Homo sapiens: one gene and its partners. The protein of the gene in region 1 purifies or fractionates together with the protein of each later gene. This does not show direct contact. Each region holds a gene or a part of one and is shown on either strand. Other genes may lie near its edges. The genes, in order: SETDB2, LYG2, DUSP14 and DSG4.

Region 1 (5,192 bases):
ATGAGAAAGAAGAGATGCAATTTTATGAAAGAATCATCCAGAAAACAGTATTTTATGTGGTAGCCTCTGAGGGTACCCTTTGCATTGTGAACTAAAGATTAGTCAGAGACTGAAACGTAGAAGCAGAGAAAGAGAAAAGAGAACAAAGAGAGACATAATGGTAGCTTACTTTAGGGCTTGTTGATGAAGAGTAAAAACTCTGCTTTAGGTGTTATGCAAATATTTGCCCTCTGCCTGGTAATGGTACAGTAGCTACCTCCTTAAGGTCAGAGAATTATGAAAAGATTGGCCATGGTGTCACACAGACCCAGGTGTAACCTCCAGCTCTGCTGCGTGCTAGCTGGGTGGTATCTCCATACATACATTTCTTTTATCTGTAAAAAGGTAATAGTATATGTTTCAGAATTATGAGGATTAAATGAGATAAGCATCAGCAACTTGCTTAGCATCCAACTAAGTGCTCAATACATGTTGACCATTCACATGCTGAGAACTTTCATAGTAATAATATGGTCAATGTGTATTGAATACTTAGTTGGTTGCCAAGCATTGTGCTGAGTATATACGCCTCTTTTAAAGTTATCATTACTACTTAAAGTGACTGCAGTGTCTACAATGTGTAAGCATTATCACATTCGTTAACCTTTCTTTGAAGTAGAAACTAGCCAATGAGTGTTTTTCATCTTTACACAACTTACAGTTGAAGGCAAATTTATAATCTAGTAATAACACTTTCTAAGTACTGAGATGATTAGAATTGGGGGATACAGACAGGGATGCATTAAGATTTTAATTCCCAAAGAATTTCTTGACAGTCTTTATAGCTGTGGCTTAATAAAGCACCTAGAAGTAGAACAGAGTCAAAGGGGATGACACTTGTTGACTCCATTAGTCTAAAGACTCCTTATGATATCAGCTTTGAGGCTTTTCAAAACGAATCTAGTACATATAGCCTATGATGATTGACACTTGATGAAAGAGGCCTAACTGCTAAATACTTTTGCCTGACCTGGAAAGTAAAGACATCTTCCTTGTTTTTTTAAGGAATTTGTTTCCTCGGAGTCTGTCACTCCAGAAGATAATGATGGATTTAAACCACCCCGAGAGCATCTGAACTCTAAAACCAAGGGAGCACAAAGTAGGCTTTGTTTCTTCTGTGAATGCCTACCTCTTCTGCCTGTTTCTCTGTCTCTTGCTCAATACCTGTAGCTCATTTTCTTAGATTCCATAATAAACATGCTGCATTTGTCAGAAAGGTTACAACTTGTCTACATAAGAGATCAGCAAAATATCGTGTGTGGGCCAAATCTGGCCCTCTACCTGTTCAGTATGGCATGTGAGCTAAGAATGATATTTATGTTTTTAAATAGTTGAAAAAAATCAGAAGGTGATAATATTTTGACACTTGAAAATTATATGAAATTACAATTTTAGTGTCCAGAAATAAAGTTTTGGCCAGGTGCAGTAGCTCACGCCCGTAATCTTAGCACTTTGGGAAGCCAAGGCAGGAGGGCTGCTTGAGGCTATGAGTCTGGGCAATGTAGCAAGATCTTGTCTCAACAACAACAAAATAGCCAGGTGTGGTGGTGCACACCTGAGGTCTTAGCTACTCAGGGGGCTGAGGTGGGAGGATTGTTGAGGTCAGGAGTTTGAGGTTACAGTGAACTATGATTGTGCCACGGTACTGCAGCCTGGGCGATAGAACAAGACCCTGTCTCAAAAAAAAAAATAAAATGTAAGTTTTATTGGAATACAGCCAATTTACATTATATATTGTCTGCTTCAACATTACAGCAAGAGTTGAATAATCACAACAGAGACCACCACATGGCCAGCAAAGCCTGAAATATTTGCTATTTTGCCTTCTGCAGGAGAACTTTGCTGACCTCTGGTCTAATTGCCAGTAGTGACTTGATGCATGACAAGAGGGGTGGGCTGGAAAACTCTTGAGTCTTTGTGGTGCACAGGTGTTGTCCGTGGCTTTGGAACCATTGTGCAAAGCAGCCACTTTCAAACTCTTTGTAGACGCCTTTAAAAATAAACACACATCACTTTCCTGCAATTGCCTAGCCAATACTGCCGCAGAGCATACTCAGCTTGACTCTGGCAAAAGGCTAAAATATTGCCACCCTGAGTCCTTGTGTTTCAGAGTTACTAGTCCTTGCCATAGTTAATATTACAACTGGACAAACATTGTTTTTGGTACTTTTGCATTTCACTGTGTCCTTCACAAGGAGACATTGCTGAGAGATATCCGTTTGTGAAGAATTGGTGAGCCACTGCTGTCTCTTCCCCCCTGCAACCGCAGCTCTCCACCTAATATTAAAGGATGGAGATTGGAGGAGACATGGCAGTTCCTTGATAGAAAAGGTCTATCAAAAAAGGGGATTTTGTGTATTATATTTATTTTATCATGCATGTGAGCCACAGTGCATACCGTTGCTTTTGGTTCTTTTGCCCTTTTCATTGACTGCTACAATATATATAGCGGGTACTCCAAAAGTCAAAAGCTACATACTTTTTGTATAAAAAAATCCAAAGTTGTATTATGGCTTACACGTAACCCATGATTAAAATATAAGTACATATAGGAACAGCAGCCAGCAACAACAGTGATGATTAAATCAAGAGCCTCAATTTTAGACAAGTATAATTTCTTTGCGCCATTGAATTAGGTGGTCCAAATAGCTTTGTGGCTCTTTTAAAGTAAGTAATTTATACTTACTCCATCTGACATGCATTCATATCTTTTCTTTTTTTTTTAAAGAGAGACAGCGACTCATTCTGTCACCCAAGCTGGAGTGCAGTGGTGGGATCATAGCTCACTGTACCTTCCAATTCCTGGGCTCAAACAGTCCTCCCACCTCAGTCTCCTGAGCAAACAGGACTACAGGCACACACCCCCTTGTTGGCTAATTTCTTTTTTTTAAAATTTTTTGTAGAGATGGGGTCTCACTTTGTTGCCCAGGCTGGTCTTGAATTCCTGGCCTCAAGCATCCTCCTGCCTTGGCCTCCCAAAGTGCTGGGATTACAGGCATGAGCCACCATGCCCAGCCATATTCATACTCTTGAATACTCTCAAAAAATTATTTTCCTTATTGGATAAGAAAAACGATTAAGCAGTGCATCTGCTTTTAAAGGATTATTGTTTACAAAGGTGTAATTATTGAATGGTCATCTAGTAAAACACCAAACACTAATATGTGCAAAACCCCTAGCAATACAGTTGTCACTGCTGGGACTTGTGGAAGGTGTCTCTGTCAGGGTTAGGCCTTTTATTGGCAGCATAAAGGCCTAGAGTGCCTCCAAAACACCCACTCTGTTACATTTGTTTAGAATATACTTAAGTGCAGATTCCAGAATTAAAGAGAAGAAAGTCAGTTTATTATGAGTAGAGATTAAATATAATAATGAAGAAGCAAGATGTAGATTCATAAAAAGGCATTGTTACGTAGTAGAAAGAAGGCAGACTTTGGGATTCAAACATTTCTAGGTTTGTTACCCCAGTTCTCGTTATTGTGGGTCAGATGAATTCCTTAATCCCTCAGAGAAAGTTTCCTTTATACAATTAAAATAATACTACCTGCCTAACACATTGTAAGGATCGATAATTAAAGCACCTAGCATCTAATTAGTGTTGTTAATTTCAGCACTATTGCTCAGCAAGTATATTTCCTGATGTTTCCTTCCAAAATGTCTATTAGAGGACTCAAGTTCAAACCATGTTGATGAGTTTGAAGATAATCTGCTGATTGAATCAGATGTGATAGATATAACTAAATATAGAGAAGAAACTCCACCAAGGAGCAGATGTAACCAGGCGACCACATTGGATAATCAGAATATTAAAAAGGCAATTGAGGTTCAAATTCAGAAACCCCAAGAGGGACGATCTACAGCATGTCAAAGACAGCAGGTATTTTGTGATGAAGAGTTGCTAAGTGAAACCAAGAATACTTCATCTGATTCTCTAACAAAGTTCAATAAAGGGAATGTGTTTTTATTGGATGCCACAAAAGAAGGAAATGTCGGCCGCTTCCTTAATGTGAGTATAAGGGCTGAGATTCCTATTTCTGAACAACTGTTTTTTTCTATGCTACTTAACAAAATTATGAGGAAAATAAACAGACTCTAAAGTCAGACCATCTGGTTAGAATTCCAGTCCTCCACTTGTATACAGTTGGATGTTTTACTTGACCTCTGATACCTCATTTTCTACCTCTGTAATACAGGGATAAATGATAACTGTCTCAGGATGTTATGAGAATCTAATGAATTAACATTAAGTGCTTAGAACAGTGCCTAGCACATAGTAAACATTTGCTTTTAAAAAACTGTAAGAAATGGTGTATAAGAAAAGTATTTAAATATATCAGATTTAAATAAGCTCACTTACCTGAGTTGAAAAAAATGTATGGCTAGGAAGTTATCAGTGAAGTTAAATGGTGGCAGATATGTCCAAAGAATACTGCAGGGATTTAATGGTGTATTAATATGGAAAGATTGCCACAATATACTGGTTTTTTGGTTTTTATTTTTTGTTTTTTTTGAGACAGAGTCTCACTTTGTCACCAGTGGCACAATCTCAGCTCACTGCAACCTCCGCTTCTGGGGTTCAAGCAATTCTCATGCCTCGGCCTCCTGAGTAGCTGAGATTACAGGCGTTAATGAATCACATGATGAATGTGTGGAGATGGCGGCTAGTGGGCAACAGAGCAATACTGGAATAGTGCTAATATGAGGAAATGGTATCATCTATTTAGAAGCCTCGGAACGACGATACATAATGGCTATCTTCAGCAAAGAAATTTGTTGCTTACAATATCTCCTCTCCAAAAGGCTTGTTTGTTACAGTGATGTAAAAATTAGGTTCTGTACATCTTCATATTAAACTTACTTTGTGAAAACTTTTTGTTTAAAAAAAAAAAAAAAAGCCATACCTTGAGAAGTACTGTGCTCCTGTTCCCATGCCCCGACTCCACCTTCTCTCTGTAGGTCATCATATTTATTCTTTTTTTTTTTTTTTTTTTGAGACCGAGTCTTGCTCTGTCACCAGGCTGGAGTGCAGTGGTGTGATCTCGGCCCACTGCGATCTCCGCCTCCTAGGTTCAAGCGATTCTCCTCATCAGCCTCCTGAGTAGCTGAGATTACAGGTGTGCACCACCATGCCTGGCTAATTTTTGCATTTTTAG
Region 2 (5,613 bases), on another chromosome or scaffold:
AAGACCTCTGGGGCCACTTGTGATGCAAACAGTGTGATGAACTGCGGTAAGTGAAAAGCAGAGCAAATGACTGGCTTCCCCCTTTCATCGTTTTCAGATTCTTTCTTAGGAAGTCACTTAATTTTGAAAAGGTATAATCATCATTATGACAATAGTATCAAAATTAAAAATGAGCAAAAACCACAATCCTGACCAATCTAACAACCAGCTTCTTTTCATTTTCCACCCCCATTCTTTCCAAACTTTGTCCAGCTGTGTTTATTTCCATGTATTGAAACTACTGCTTGAATAAATATTAGACTCTGGCTTTGTTTTTTGGGTGGTGCTGCTGTGTTTGCTTCATGTTACACATGACCATTTGAAGCAATACTGTTCCAAAGTCGTCTTCATCACGTTATCCTGGTTTTAGAGTGTCGGAGCTGGCAGCAACCACAAGGTCACATCAGACCCCAACCCCTCAAATTTACAAATCAGAGCCCAAAGACTCAGCAAGGAGGGGAATACTTCCCAATAGAACAGAACCAACTAGTGGCGGAGCCAGGCTAAAACATGCATTGGCTAACTCCTAGTACAACAGGCTTCCCAGTGCACTAGTGTGGCAGAATTTTTTTTGTGTGTATGACAGAGTCTTGCTTTGTCACCCAGGCTGGAGTGCGATGGCATGATCTCGGCTCACTACAATCTCCACCTCCCAGGTTCAAGCGATTCTCCTGCCTCAGTCTCCTGAGTAGCTGGGGTTACAGGTGCCTGCCACCAAGTCCAGCTAATTTTTGTATTTTTAGTAGAGATGGGGTTTCACCATGTTGGCCAGGCTAGTCTTGAGCTCCTGACCTCAAGTGATCTGTCCACCTCGGCCTCCCAAAGTGCTGGGATTACAGGCATGAGCAATTTGAAGGAGAAACAGAGCAGAAGCGACACCTGTTGGGGGTTGTGGATCTGTTTGTTTCTGCAGTCAGAGATCAAAAGGATGTCTTAGAATGGTTGTCCCAAGTCATTAGCAGTGATCAGAGGCTGTGGCTAACTTAGCAAATTTTTAAAAATGGTTTTCTTCTGAAGTAGAAGAAACAGTTTCTTTTCTTTTTTTAACTTTAAATTCTTTTTTTTTTTTTTTTTAATTAGAGATGGGCTCTCACTATGATGCCCAGGCTGGTTTCGAACTCCTCCTGGGTTCAAGCAATCCTCCTGTTTCAGCCTCCTGTGTAGCAGGAACTGACTTCAGGCACACACTACCATGCCCGGAAAAACAGTTTCTTTTCTATTGACGTAGGGATCCGTGGTTCTGAAATGTTTGCTGAGATGGATTTGAGGGCCATAAAACCTTACCAGACTCTGATCAAAGAAGTCGGGCAGAGACATTGCGTGGACCCTGCTGTCATCGCAGCCATCATCTCCAGGGAAAGCCATGGCGGATCTGTCCTGCAAGACGGCTGGGACCACAGGGGACTTAAATTTGGCTTGATGCAGGTATTTAGCTAGAAACTTTCTATCAGCCCCACTGCATCCCTCCTCACAGAAGCTCAACCTGAACTAGAAATCCATTTGCAGTGCTTCCAAGCCCCAAAATACCCTGGCATCTGGCTACAGGTACTCCAGCATAATTTTTTTTTTTTTTTTGAGATGGAGTTTCATTCTTGTTACCCAGGCTGGAGTGCAATGGCGTGATCTCGGCTCACTGCAACCTCCACTCCCGGGTTCAAGTGATTCTCCTCCCTCAGCCTCCTGAGTAGCTGGGATTACAGGCACACGCCACCATGCCCAGCTAATTTTTTGTATTTTTAGTAGAGACGGGATTTCACCTTGTTGGCCAGGCTGGTCTTGAACTCCTGACCTCAGGTGATCCACCCACCTCAGTCTCCCAAAGTGCTGGGATTACAAGCTTGAGCCACTGTGCCCGGCCACTCCAGCATAATTTGATCTGGGATTTCTGTAACACATCTTTTTATTTTATTCAAGGCTTATTCATTATTAGATATATTTTAAAAAGTATTTTAGGAGTTTCATAACTACCATTCTGCAATAAATAATATGTAATACACTAAAACTGAGAAAATCTTATAAATAGCATTATTGTTACAGGTGTCCTCTTGGGGTTCATGAAGTAGTAAATTTCATCCATGTGGATCAAAACATGGTATAACTGTGCCCTACTTGAAACAACTTGTTCCTTTGGGTAAACTGGAGGAAGGGGATCCAAATTATCTGGATATTTGCTTCCAGGCTCGATTTTAAATTGTCTGTAGAAATACAGACTTCTGGCCTTCCCAGTTAGAAACAAATTTTTATCTGAATTAGCTGGATAATTATTTATTACTATAAATGTGTAGACTTTGGGTGTTATTTGTTTCAAAACAACTTAAATTTTTTTTTTGTATATTAGAATGTTTAGCTAAAACTATACCATGTCCATTTCTCCCAAACCTTACTTTGTTTCTCTGACTCTCATCTATATGAAAGAAAGAACAATAGAATTGACTCTTTGGGGATAAAGGCCGGTATCTATGACTTGAATACCAGGAGAGGAAATTAGGAATGGCAGAAAAAATGTGTTACCTCATCCAGATGCTGACTTTATTATCTGAATTTTCTAGCTTGATAAACAAACGTACCACCCTGTCGGTGCCTGGGATAGCAAAGAGCACCTTTCACAGGCTACTGGGATTCTAACAGAGAGAATTAAGGCAATCCAGAAAAAATTCCCCACGTGGAGTGTTGCTCAGCACCTCAAAGGTAGGCTGTATTCTGAGTACTTTGTTTAAATGAGCAATGAATGAGACCACTGAAGGCCAGTGTGACCCGAGACTCCCTGGGAGCATTTCCACGGGGTCAGCAGTGGCCCTGGGAGGAGCTGTCTAGAGGCTGCATTTGCATTCCCTGAACCACTGAGTTACTTTGAGAGGTCCTCCATCCTCAACCTCCATTTCCTCTTCTGCAGAATGTTGGGGTTCTTATTCATTGCTTACTGAGCTATTGAGTGATACCTTGAAACATAGTGAGACCCTGTCTCTACAAAAAAAAAAAAAAAAAAAAAAAAAGCTGGGCATGGTGACACACAGTCCCAGCTACTCAGGAGGCTAAGCCAGGAGGATTGCTTGTGCCTGGGAGGTTAAGGCTGCAGTGAGCATTGATTACATCACTGCACTCCAGCCTGGGAGACAGAGTGAGACCCCATCTCTCAAAAAAAAATTTATCTATCTATCTATCTATCTATCTATCTATCTATCTATCTATCTATCTGTTTGCCTACCTCTCATAGGTTTTTTCCTGTTATAAGAAACTGTCAACAACTTTCCAAATTGTCTGAACAATGTTACTCTGTGAGTATTTTCGGGACTTCAGGTGCTATATATCCAAGTGGAAATCTCTGCTTGGCTGACCACAGGCCCCCTCAAGTTCAGCATCTCCCAGATGGAATTAACTCACTAACTTCCCACTATAAATTTGCTCTTTCTTCTGCATTTTACATGTCTTGGAGGCACCATAATATAGCCAGTCATCCCAGCCTGAAAACCAGATTGCTTTCTTAGGCTCTCTGGTTCCTTCTCTCTTCACACCCAACCACATCAATTCCTATTAGGTTTGCCTCCTATTGGCCAATGTTATGTCCTCCACACTCTAACGGCCTTAATCAGAACAGTTTCTAGTCTCTACTTCAAGGTCCTTGAAGGCAGGGATCAGGACCAGGCATCTTCCTCTCTGGATATCAGAGCAGAGCACAATTATGTTAAACACATACATAACTACTAGAGATAAAATTCTAGGGTAAAATAGCACACACATGCATATGTACACATACCCAAAGAAATAAGTGTGTCTTGGGTACCTTGCAGTCAGTGTGGCACCTCTCCTGGCACATAGTAGGTGCTTGAAAACATTTCCTGAATGAATAAATGAGTGAGTGAATAGATGAGTGAATTATTGAATAAATGAGAGAATGTTACAAGCATTTTCAGCAGAGGATGTACTGGGAGTCTAGTTCTGCCAGGCCTGGATTACATAAAAAAGCAAATCTGATTTTTGCAACAAGAAAAACCAAAGACTTTGGAAAAAGAGAAAGAAAGCAATCTGGAATTTTCCCAGTGATTCTTGGGATAGCACGTCCTTTCAGAAAGGGAGGGAGAGGGAGGAGGATTTGGGACTGCCTGCTTTGGAAGATTTGCCTGGAAAGCTAACATCTTGGCAATGCTCATTGCTTATTTCTGTTGAAAGTTAATATTTGAGCCTAATTCTCTGTGTTTCATTTCAGGTGGTCTCTCAGCTTTTAAGTCAGGAATTGAAGCGATTGCCACCCCATCGGACATAGACAATGACTTCGTCAATGATATCATTGCTCGAGCTAAGTTCTATAAAAGACAAAGCTTCTAGGCAAAGCTCTGTGGGTGGGCCAGGTTGGCAGAGTGCTCAGATGGCCGCCTTTGAGAGTTTTACGTGAATGTGTTGTATACAACACTGGCAAAGAAATGATTAAAATCATGAAAGAAAATTCATTTCCCAATTTTCTGAATGAAAATAAGCATTGAAAAAAGGAAAGAAAAATAAAAGAAATCCATCCAGTTCACAATATGGTTCCTAGGAAACGGACATAGACATATATATAATTACTTTGCAGTAAATGTGAATATCATGGCAAATGGTCCCTAGGTATTCCAGCCAGGCTTCATTTTAGCCTGTGATTCCAATGCCCACCTACTCCCTGTCTACCAGAATTGCTAACAAGTTAAGTAAGCCTTACCCGAGCCTTTGTCTTTTTTCCAGTATCTGCCCAGAGCCCTCAGGCTTTGCTTATGAGAAGTTCCTGACTCGTAAGCCAGCCAATCCATGGGACAATGGAAGAAATAGGGATGGAATTCTAGCTTCATGGGAAACTGAGAGCCAACTGAGGTGAAGCTGTCATTCAAGTTAGATACACCAAGTCCTTCAAACCCACAGCAACCTCCTGTGTTTTCTTTTGTCTGTGAAGATCCAGGGACTGGCTTTTCTTATTTTCAGCAGTTGCTGCCACACGCTTTCTTTCACGGGGTCCATCCCTCACAAAACATGGCTGAAGATAAGCATGTAGGACCCAAATCAATTATGGTTCTTTGGTTGCAAGCAAAAGTAACCACTTATAGAAATTTTAAGCATTAAAAAGAAATTACTGGAAGGCTAACAGAACAAACTAAGAAGGTCAAGGAGATGAAGAGACACCAGGCAACTCTGGGGTCTGGGTAGCAGGAATGGGTTAACCATACTTTACAGCATCCATAGTAAGCAAATGAATTAGCACCCTCACCAGTATCCTCATATATGTACTCCAAACACCTGTTTCTGATTATGTCTTCATTCTGCGTCACTTTCATAGTGCCAGGAGAGGTTCGGAGCTATTTATCTTGGGTCACATACAAACCTACCCTTTGGCTATTTTGCTACCTTGGTCTTGCTCACACTACCTACAATGGAGAAGAGACAACTCTCTGGAAGGAAACTGTGTGCTGTTTGTGGCCTTTACTTCCATAGTCAGGAGAGGACACAAGTGATAACACGTTGGAGTGTAAAGTGGACGTGTGACACTGTGGCCCTGCTGGGCCTTTAACTCCCTTTGGAGATGTTCAATGAATGTTTCAGTCCATCACTTCT
Region 3 (5,192 bases), on another chromosome or scaffold:
AGACAGAGTCTTACTCTGTTGCCCAGGCTGGAGTGCAGTGGCTCAATCTCTGCTCACTGCAACTGCCTCGTCCTGGGTTCAAGCAATTCTCCTGCCTCAGTCTCCCAAGTAGCTGAGATTACAGGTGCATGCCACCACACCCGGCTAATTTTTTGTTTGTTTGAGATGGAATCTCGCTCTTTCACTCAAGCTGGATTGCAGTGGTATGATCTTGGCTCACTTGAACCTCCGCCTCCCAGGTTCAAGCAATTCTCTGTCTCAGCCTCTGGAGTAGCTGGGATTACAGGGGCCCACGACCACTCCCGGCTAATTTTTGTATTTTCAGTAGAGACGGGGTTTCACTATGTTGGTCAGGCTGGTTTCGAACTCCGGACCTCATGATCCACCCGCCTCAGCCTCCCAAAGTGCTGGGATTACAGGCATGAGCTACCGTGCCCGGCCTAACACCCGGCTAATTTTTACATTTTTATAAGAGATGGGGTTTCACCATGTTGGTCAGGCTAGTCTCGATTGAACTTTTGACCTCAAGTGATCCACCTGCCTCAGCCTCCCAAAGTGCTGGGATTATAGGCGTGAGCCACTGTGCCCAGCATAATTTTCTATATGATTTCAATTTCTAAAAGTAAAAAATATTTTTAATAGAAGAAAATTAACAACACATAGTTGTCGGTCCAAGCCCCCTCTCCACTTCTGGCCTGAGCCTGCCAGTGCTCTTTATATAGGAGCCAGGATAACACCAAAGATTTATAATGATGACATGAAGTGTGTCTTCATTATAAATGTTTTGTGTTTTATAATGAAACACAAAGATTTAAAAGATTTAGTTAAATCTAAGATTTAGATTTTAGCTAAATTGGCAAAATTCTTCATTATAAATCTCCAAATTTGTATGTAATTTGTATGTTGACAGTACTTCCAGATTTTATTTTTACAAGTGCTTCCTTAAAACTTAAAGCAGGCTGGGCGCGGTGGCTCATGCCTGTAATCCCAGCACTTTGGGGGTCCGAGGCAGGTGGATCACGAGGTCATGAGATCGAGACCAGCCTGACCAACATGGTGAAACCCTGTCTCTACTAAAAATAGAAAAATTAGCTGGGCGTGGTGGCATGCGCCTGTAATCCCAGCTACTCGGGAGGCTGAGGCAGGAGAATTGCTTGAACCTGGGAAGCGGAGGTTGCAGTGAGCCGAGATCGCGCCACTGCACTCCAGCCTGGTGATGGAGCAAGACTCCGTCTCAAAAAAAAAACAAAAAAACAAAAAAAACAAAACTTAAAGCAAGTTCACCTACTGGTCACTTTCCCAGGCAGGGAAGGCTGGTGCTTTGAAGGCGCTCTCTGCCACATAATGTTTACTAGTCAACAGAAGCAGCATGCTCTAGTTAGGGAGTTTTCTCATATGTACCCACACACTCAAAGACATAGGAGTCAAAACAAACAAACAAACAAACAAAAAAACTTGCCCTAGGTCATTGATGCTGAAACTGTTCTGGGACAAAGACAGAAGTAAACCCAGCAGTTGCATATGAACTTCAAAAGAACCTTCTCGTCCACTGAGGTTTCAACATGGCATGGGGTGTGAAAAGCTGACCCAACCGGACCTCTGGTTGCTCTAGGTTGGTGCAAGAACAGAATGGGACGTGCCCAGGTGAGCTGGGTGGGCTGCACATGAAAGGGCATGGCTGTGATCTCAGCCCTAGGCCTCCTCCCTCGCCCAGGCTGAGGCTGCCCCTGCCCTGCAACAGGTGGAAAATGGAGCTCCTTTGTGAAAGCTGCCCGCTGGAAGGCCGAAGGGGTGACAAAGAACACGACAGGGCTCCTCCCCCATCACTCAGATCAACAGGTTCTCATACTAACGACTTCTTACTCCTCCTCCTTTGGGTGTCTTTTCCTGAAAACTTCTAATTTATCCGCATGTGGTTTCTAAAATTATCATTATTTTAGAGAATCTGAAAAAAAATCTTTACTATAATGAGCAAAAAAGTCTTTGTGACTTATGTAAATAAAGACTGAAAATAGAGTGATTTAGCTATTTTCCAAGATGCTTTAGAGAAGAAATAAAAAGGATCTACAAATCTCAGTCTTTGTGCTAGTGTTCTTCCATCATCCCTCCAGCTAAAAAGGATTCCCCTGAGGTATTTTGTAAACCTACAGAATTGCGTAACATTCTGCTCTAAGGGCAGAAACACAGCACATAATACTAGGCACATGGTAAGTACTCAATGAACACCTGAATTTAACGGCTGCCCTCAGGTGAACTGCCCACCTCTCCCCACACCCTCCCTCCTGCTCCTTCTCTTTCTCACATTCTCTCACTCTCTCTCACACACACACTTCAAATCCAGCTGGCAAAACTAAACACGGGCAATCAAAGTGAGCCTGGTAACTGTCTGTTCACAAAGCAGGAATTCAAGCTGGATGTGGCACATGCTGCAGTCCCAGCTTTTAGGAGGCTGAGGTGGGAGGATCCCTTGAGCCCAGCAGTTCAAGGCCAGCCTGAGCCACACTGCTAGACTCCATCTCTTACAAAGAAAATGAACAAAAACGACAAAAACTCTGCTCTAAGCTACTTCTACTTTCTCAGGCAAAGGAAAATTTGGAGAAAAATACATTTAAAAGATTTAAAGGCTGGGTGCGGTGGCTCACGCCTGTAATCCCAGCATTTTGGGAGGCCGAGGCGGGCGGATCACGAGGTCAGGAGATTAAGACCATTCTGACTAACATGGTGAAACCCCGTCTCTACTAAAAATACAAAAAATTAGCCGGGCATGGTGACGGGCACCTGTGGTCCCAGCTACTAGGGAGGCTGAGGCAGGAGAATGGCATGAACCTGGGAGGCGGAGCTTGCAGTGAGCCGAGATCGCGCCACTGCACTCCAGCCTGGGCGACAGAGTGAGACTCTGTCTCAAAAAAAAAAAAAAAAAGTTTAAAAGAGTCATTGATTCCTGTAGCACAGAGTCTGTGGTTACTTTGGAATTGCCAAGAAGTATGAGTTAGGGTCTGTGCACAGTGCCTCTTAAGGAGTCTCATCCTCAGAGGGTACTTTAACAAGGATAGGCCTGGGTTCCTGCACACTACACTGTCCTACACATTTAGGGCTGGGCACAATGGAAGCATTCACCAGAGGCAGGATTCATTCAAGAGCCTTAAAAAACATCTAGGTACTAGCCACTTATTTTTAGTACTTCATTTTGCATATTTAAAATTTCCTGTAACTACTCATCTGTTCCAAAAAAAAAAAAAAAAGATTGATGAAAGGATTCCATTAGATATTTGTCAACCAAACACAGTGGGAAAACCATTTCTGGTATTTGGGTGGTTAGTCCAAACCATATAACTAAATAAAAATACGCTAGCACATGACAGGCCAGGGATCGGACTACCCAGGGACCTTTATTCATTCATTCAGAAAATATTCAAGCATAATTGTGGTTAAACAGCAAATACAGTGACTTACAAACTCAAGGCTGACACCACTGAAGGAATGTAAATTGGTACAACCACTTTGGAAACCAGGTATCAACTAGTAAAGCTGAAGGTATGCACACCTGACTCAGGGCTGTTCATAATTGCCCCAGACCAGAAACAACCCAGATGTCCATCAACAGTGGAAAGGTAATTTGTGGTATGTTCATAAGACAAAAATGTACTAACTGGGCTGGGTGTGGTGGCTCACACCTGTAATCCCAGCACTTTGGGAGGCCCAGGCAGGAGGATCCCTTGAGCCCAGGAGTTCAAGACCAGCCTGGGCAATATAGTGAGACCTTGTCTCTAAAAAAATTAAAACACAAAAACTACAGGCATAGGCAACGATATGGATAAATCTTTTAAAATAGCATGCTGCAGAAATTTAAAAAATTATATATGTGCGTGTGTATATACATACATACACACACACATACATACACATACACACACACACACACGATGCCGGCCAGAAGGAAGGATTCACAAGAGTATCTACTTTTAGTTTGCACTGAGGTTAAAAACAAGCAAAATAAAACTATGTCAATTAGGGATTTATATTTAGGGGATAAAAACTATAGAAAAGAAGGAAATGATTTCCATAAAAGTCAGGGTAGTTTCTGGCTAGGACCTCTGGGGGAGGGAGAGAGTGTGGAGTCAGATTCTTGACCTGCAAGACAGTTACACTTATGTTTTCGTTAAAATAATCCATCAAATTATCCATTTGTTTTAGACACTTTTTTACATAATTCACAATTCAATAAATCTAATGTTGATTTCTGGGAATTCAGAACCATGACAACAATTCTGGCCAACTCTCTCTGAATGTCACTATTTGCCTGTCAGCTTCATAAGGTCAGAGACCGACCTTACTTGCCTTCTTCCTCTGTATTCAGGCACAGCACCTTTAGCATGGTAAAAGTCCTCGGTAAATGTATAATATATAAATCCACAGAATCCTGACATGAATTTTGTTTTAACCCATCCATTTCCTGAAATTACCGGTTTGAAGGGTGCCCACATTAACACTTTCCTTTGTCTTCACCCAGGTGAAGTGAAGCTTTCATAAATAATAAAGCCATCTTAAATGTTAGCTCTGTAAGTTTATACCCAGGCCTTGGTTGCTTTAGCAACTCTCCCTGTCTTCCACTCCCTTTGACGTTTCTTTATAAGCAAAGACAAGACAATAGGCTAGTAGTCCTAGATTTTTTTTTTAAATAGGAAAGTTTTATTCAGCACCTAAGAGTAAAACCTAGGATCGTAATGATTCTACTACTTTGAAGTTGTTTAAAAGGGGTAATTTGCCCCTTGCCCTGGGAAGTAACACCGTCTATCAGGATTATTAAAACTTTACCAACAGTTGTACTTAAACACATTACTTGTTCTTGACAGAAGCCAAATCTTTATAAACAGGACAAGTCAACTTTAAAATAATTAATTTCGGTTAAAAAACCACTTTGTGCAAACGGACATTTATAAAAATGCTTAGAAAAGTCTAAAAAGATATACACAAACCGATCAAGATGCACTCGGCAGTTACTTTTGAGGAAGAGGTTCAAAAGAAAGCTTTAACCTTATTAGTAAAGTTTAAATCTCACAGAGAATGGTTAATGTATTTCTTGTGATTTTGGGAAAAGCATTTTTAATCCATTTTGCCTTAAAATCCCAATTGCAAAGGAACCCATCAAACATAGCCCTCCCTAAAGCCCACTTTTTAAAAATGTTAAAGTA
Region 4 (5,192 bases), on another chromosome or scaffold:
GTGGCAAGTCACTTAATAAAACATTCTACTTCTGTTTCCACAGTTCTTGCCATATTAACATTAAATGAAAAAAATATTTCATGTACACAGAGGATATTTGATAAAATTTTGAACTGAAATGAAATGAGTCAAAATGTTTCATTAATATTTAATTTACAAATAGTAGTGGATAAATACCAGTTTACCCATCATTTTGAGTAGGTAAAACGTTGAACCAATATTTATTCAGTTTAAAATAAACAGAACCCTTAACAAACTCATAAATTAAGAATGTCACAATTCCCTATTCTGAATAAATTCAGACAAATCACATAAATGTCTCTGAAACTCATATATCCCATAGATACATTTAAACATTTACTACTCACTTAGGAGCACATAAAATCAATTAAATTGTTTTTTACAGTAACTATGAGTTCAGACTTATTTTTAAGGGTAAAAATTTAAATCCAAATTGCTCAGTATTAGAGGAATGATTAAACAGAGTACATATTATTAAGATGTGTTAATATACAGCCATTAAAATTAGAATTATGCAAAGTATGTAGATACAAAAGAATGCATAAACCAAAGAAAGTAAAGTGAAAAACAGATCACGAAGTTGTATATGTATGTATCTTGACTATAACTACATACAATTGAATGGCTGACATCGATAAAAATTAAGAATAAATTTCAGATAACATAACATTTTATCTACCTTGCGTTCTTTTTCCTAAAACGTTAAGTGCATAATAAAAAAGAAAATGCTATGAGAGGATCTCATATGGGCTAAGATAGCTCCCCAATCTCATATTCATTTGGGGCTACAGGGAAAATTTCATGGGCTAGTCGGTGGCCATCAGACTACAGAGCCCAGGGTGAGAGGAAATACTTCCCACCTCTTTAAGGTCACCAAGCCCCTCTATTTACAGAATGGAGAAACCCTAAAATAAGGTGGGGAAAATACCACCAATAAAGTAAGAAATTAGGCAATTTGTTTTTACCATCAAACCTTTAGCTCTTTTCAACAAAACCACTTTAATATTTTTTAAAGTTAATCATGTTAAAGCAATTCCATTAATATCAAGTCAACTCTGAATTCACCATCTCCTATAAAGCTCAATAGCCCATTCATAAACAATAATAATTGCTAACCACTTTTTTCCTCATTCGGATCCTAGATATTATGATTACACATGTAAGAAAAAATGTTCTGCATGGAGGTATAATATTATAGCTATTACAGGTTTGCCAATAAAAAATATAACCACACTGGAGATGATATTCCTAGAGACCTGTTTCAATGCTTGCTGGTGTTTTAGAACAGAATGAATTTCACTTAATGTGCTGTGGCATTGCCTTATCTCATTTTTACCTTGTGCACAGGTTAGATTTTGGTGGACATAGCTGGCTTGCCATCTAGCTAACTGAGGATAATAAACCATCATAATAAAAAATATTGTGTGCTATGGATCAATCAGTTACTATTCATGGTTTAGCTGTAAATTTAATCATCTCAACACTCCTTGTATTAATAAATAAATTCCAATGAATATTTTAGACAATATGTTTTATGAAAATTCATAGGCAATGATAGCACAAAGAATTAGGAGAATGTGAACAATTTTAAATGAAAGGGCAACAATTTTGAGTAAGATACATATAAACAGTCTTAAGGAGGGTATTGTGTAAACTGTAATCCTAAATAGAAGACTTCTAATATTTTCTTTCAGCTCAATATTATTTATTCATTGGGCAAATATTTATTGAATGTATATTATATGCCAATTACTGTTGCTCTGGAAAGATGCAGCAAGGTCCTTGCCTGCATTATAGAAGTAGCAATCCAGCAGTAAGCAATACTTATTTAAAAATTAGTTATAAATGTTAAAAAAAAAAAGAAAGAAAGAAAAGTAAAAAAGGCCAGGCAGAATGGCTCATGCTTGTAATCCAAGCACTTTAAGAGGCCAAGGCAGGTGGATTGCTGGAGCCCAGGAGTTCAAGACCACCCTGGGCAATATGGCAAAACCCTGTCTCTACTAAATGTATATATATTAGCCAGGCATGGTGCCACACACCTGTAGTCCCAGCTTCTCAGGAGACTGAGGTGGGAGAATCACTTAAACCTAGGAATCCAAGGCTGCAGTGAGTCATGTTCGTGCCACTGCACTCCAGCCTGGGCAATAGGAATGAGACTCTGTCTCAAAAATAACAAGAATAATAATAATAATAATAAATTAAATAAATGTTAAAAAAAAGTACAAGGTGCTTTATGACTAAGAAAGCATGAAAAATCTAGTGTTTTAAGTCAATATTTGGTATTAGGGAGAGTTAACCACCCCCCTAGCCCACCAAGGAATTTCCATTTATTTTCTGTTTCCTCTCTTCCATTTCAGCTACCTCGGCAATCCTTACGGCTAAGCAGGTTTTATCTCCAGGATTTTATGAAATCCCAATCCTGGTGAAGGACAGCTATAACAGAGCATGTGAATTGGCACAAATGGTGCAGTTATATGCCTGTGATTGCGATGACAACCACATGTGCCTGGACTCTGGTGCCGCGGGCATCTACACAGAGGACATAACTGGTGACACGTATGGGCCTGTCACTGAAGACCAAGCTGGAGTTTCAAATGTTGGTCTTGGACCAGCAGGGATTGGCATGATGGTTCTGGGCATCCTGCTACTGATTTGTAAGTACTCAATTAAATCCTTCTTTTCAATAGTTCTTCAAAATAGGGCTGTTACGAGGCTCGCTGGGATGGTTAGGTTCATGGAGCCATTTCTTTTTGGTATCTCTAGCAATTTTTGAGTGCCTTAGAAATAAACAATGGGACTGACAAATATATGCGCTTAATCCACAATGATAACTAAGAAAGCCTAGGGTGAGTGACAGTCCTAAAAATGGGAAACACATGCAAATCACTACATATACTACCTAAAAGCACAAAACAAATCCCATCATGGAAATTTCCTTAAAATGCTTTAAGAGTAGAGAGGCAGAAGCAATTAAGTCCATGTGGAAAAGTTAGGACAATCTTTTGGAAAAGTGGATTTTGAGGTGAGCCTGAAAAGCTGAGGATTTTTTTTTTCTTTTTTTCTTTTTCTTTTTTTTGAGATGGAATCTTGCTCTATTGCCCAGGCTGGAGTGCAGTGGCGCAACCTCGGCTCACTGCAACTTCTGCCTCCCAGGTTCAAATGATTCTCCTGCCTCAGCCTCCCGAGTAGCTGGGACTACAGGCGCCCACCACCACGACTGGCTAATTTTTGTACTTTTAGTAGAGACGGGGTTTCACCATGATAGCCAGGATGGTCTTGAACTCCTGACCTCGTGGTCCACCTGCCTTGGGCTCCCAAAGTGCTGGGATTACAGGCATGAGCCACTGCACCCTGCTGAGGATTTCTTTTAAAGGAGGATGATGTCTAAGGAAATTTGAAAGGTAATCAAACACACACACACAAAAAAAAACCACACACACAAACAAAAGGGAGCAAGATATGGAAGAGCATAGCACACCTAGGAAGCAGAGAGGCAAAAGGGAGTCTGGGAGCCAGCATGGAGGCATGTTCATGACACACCAGGCATTCTGGGCTTCAGTACAATGGCACAGAAGAGTTGATGAGGGCTGATGAGCGCAGGTGACCCTGCGGTAGGAAGCAAGTAGAAGAGACTAGAACAGAGAATTAGCCTCTGGGCTCTGGGTGAGTGCCTAAACTAAGACTGGTCACAGAAGTGGAAAGATCACCAAACAAAAATTTCCCAAAAAGGGCCCTCCTTTCCCCATAGAGTTTTTTTAAACATATAGATCCTCAGAGGAAGAATACTTCATACATTTTAGGTTGCCCTTGCAATATTTAGGTTTCATGGGGATCAAAAGCTGGGTTCTAAAATTAAAGAGAAGTAAATTTGTCAAACTGTATTGTTGCTGTTTTCAGGGATGAGCACTAATTAAAATGTAATCATTTCAAGGCATAAAAAATAACAGCTGACTTTTGGTGAGGATTTCTTTTTTGAAATAATCTGTGAGGTTTCAAAGCTATGCAAAGATCATGAGTGATTCTCACAATGATATTAGACACATTTTCCCAGAATATAACTCTACAGCAATTGAGTAGTGGTTTCGGGTAAGCTTTGAGTTAGCGGTTCTCAACCCTAGTTGTACATAAGAATTAGTTAAAGGTCTTCCAAAATTACTCATACTAGAGTCATACTCAAGATGAGACCAAGCATCAGCATGTTCAAGCCCTTTGGTGAGACTAATGTGCAGTTCAGGGCTAAAAACCCAGTGCCAGCTGCATTTCCAGAACGTTAGCACTAAGAATTTCAAGACTTTTTCCTGACCCAGACAAAGAAAGCATGAGAGTTGTTCAACTGATGGATTGTAGAATAGGAGAGGAATACCCCTATGGACACTTGTTTTCAATGGAGAAGCCCATGGTCTATTTTAGGAGAGAGGGGGCAGTGTGATGGTAGTGGGAGGGATCTGAGCCCAAACCTATGTTCCCAAAGGGCCTCAAATTGACACTTTTGATGTTAGCTCCAAATGAGATTACACATACAGTAATTGTATTGGGTATGTGCTAAAAACACTTCATTTCATTTATTAGATAGTGCCTTTGTTAGAGTTCAGGCCTGCAATGGTACATGATCCAGCTCACATTTAAATTCACAGAAATATAGAATAGGCAGAACCATGGCCTAGGGGCTACCAATTTTAGTTTTAGTCCTTTTCCAGAAAATGCTATGGAAATGTATAACTTGACCTTTCACTGTTCATAGTGCAGATGGCAAAATTGCCAAATTAATTGTTGTAATAAGACTAAAGCTGATTTTGCAACTTTGATAGTCTCTTCTTTTGTATCTGTTTTTAATTTTTAATTTTTGTGGGTACATAATAGGTGTACATATTTATGGGGTACATTAGCTGCTTTGATACAGGCATGCAATGTGAAATAATCACATCCTGGAGAATGGGGCATCCATCCCCTCAAGCATTTATCCTTCTATTCTTTATCTTTAATTAACCCACTTAGTAAAATGCATGCCATGCTAGAGAATTAGGAAAGTATGAAAAGCAACCAGAGTGGGCCCAAAGAACTAAACAGAGTGTATTCTAGAATCTTAGAAAACTTAAGCAGTGTCTATATTTATGGATTAAAATACAGAATTGAGGTGATTATTAGGGTAACAAATAGGAAATTTCCTCTTA

Evidence for each region.
Region 2: the proteins of SETDB2 (region 1) and LYG2 purify together in Homo sapiens (affinity purification with mass spectrometry; 2 studies listed by BioGRID and IntAct, with this or other methods). This does not show direct contact.
Region 3: the proteins of SETDB2 (region 1) and DUSP14 purify together in Homo sapiens (affinity purification with mass spectrometry; 2 studies listed by BioGRID and IntAct, with this or other methods). This does not show direct contact.
Region 4: the proteins of SETDB2 (region 1) and DSG4 purify together in Homo sapiens (affinity purification with mass spectrometry; 2 studies listed by BioGRID and IntAct, with this or other methods). This does not show direct contact.

What each region holds. Positions count from the first base shown.
Region 1 is NC_000013.11:49,484,586-49,489,777, forward strand, and holds part of SETDB2 (histone-lysine N-methyltransferase SETDB2), read left to right. Parts: intron 1-1,044; coding exon 1,045-1,138; coding exon of another isoform or gene 1,139-1,209; exon of another isoform or gene 1,210-1,260; intron 1,261-3,704; coding exon 3,705-4,045; intron 4,046-5,192. Other genes in the region: SETDB2-PHF11 protein, read left to right, coding at 1,045-1,138. UniProt on the Homo sapiens protein: Histone methyltransferase involved in left-right axis specification in early development and mitosis. Specifically trimethylates 'Lys-9' of histone H3 (H3K9me3).
Region 2 is NC_000002.12:99,241,113-99,246,725, reverse strand, and holds the end of LYG2 (lysozyme g-like protein 2 precursor), read left to right. Parts: coding exon 1-46; intron 47-1,267; coding exon 1,268-1,464; intron 1,465-2,588; coding exon 2,589-2,727; intron 2,728-4,243; coding exon 4,244-4,362; 3' UTR 4,363-4,480; downstream 4,481-5,613. UniProt on the Homo sapiens protein: May act as a potent antibacterial protein that may play a role in the innate immunity.
Region 3 is NC_000017.11:37,491,723-37,496,914, reverse strand, and holds part of DUSP14 (dual specificity protein phosphatase 14), read right to left. Parts: intron 1-5,192. UniProt on the Homo sapiens protein: Involved in the inactivation of MAP kinases. Dephosphorylates ERK, JNK and p38 MAP-kinases. Plays a negative role in TCR signaling by dephosphorylating MAP3K7 adapter TAB1 leading to its inactivation.
Region 4 is NC_000018.10:31,403,699-31,408,890, forward strand, and holds part of DSG4 (desmoglein-4 isoform 2 preproprotein), read left to right. Parts: intron 1-2,378; coding exon 2,379-2,675; intron 2,676-5,192.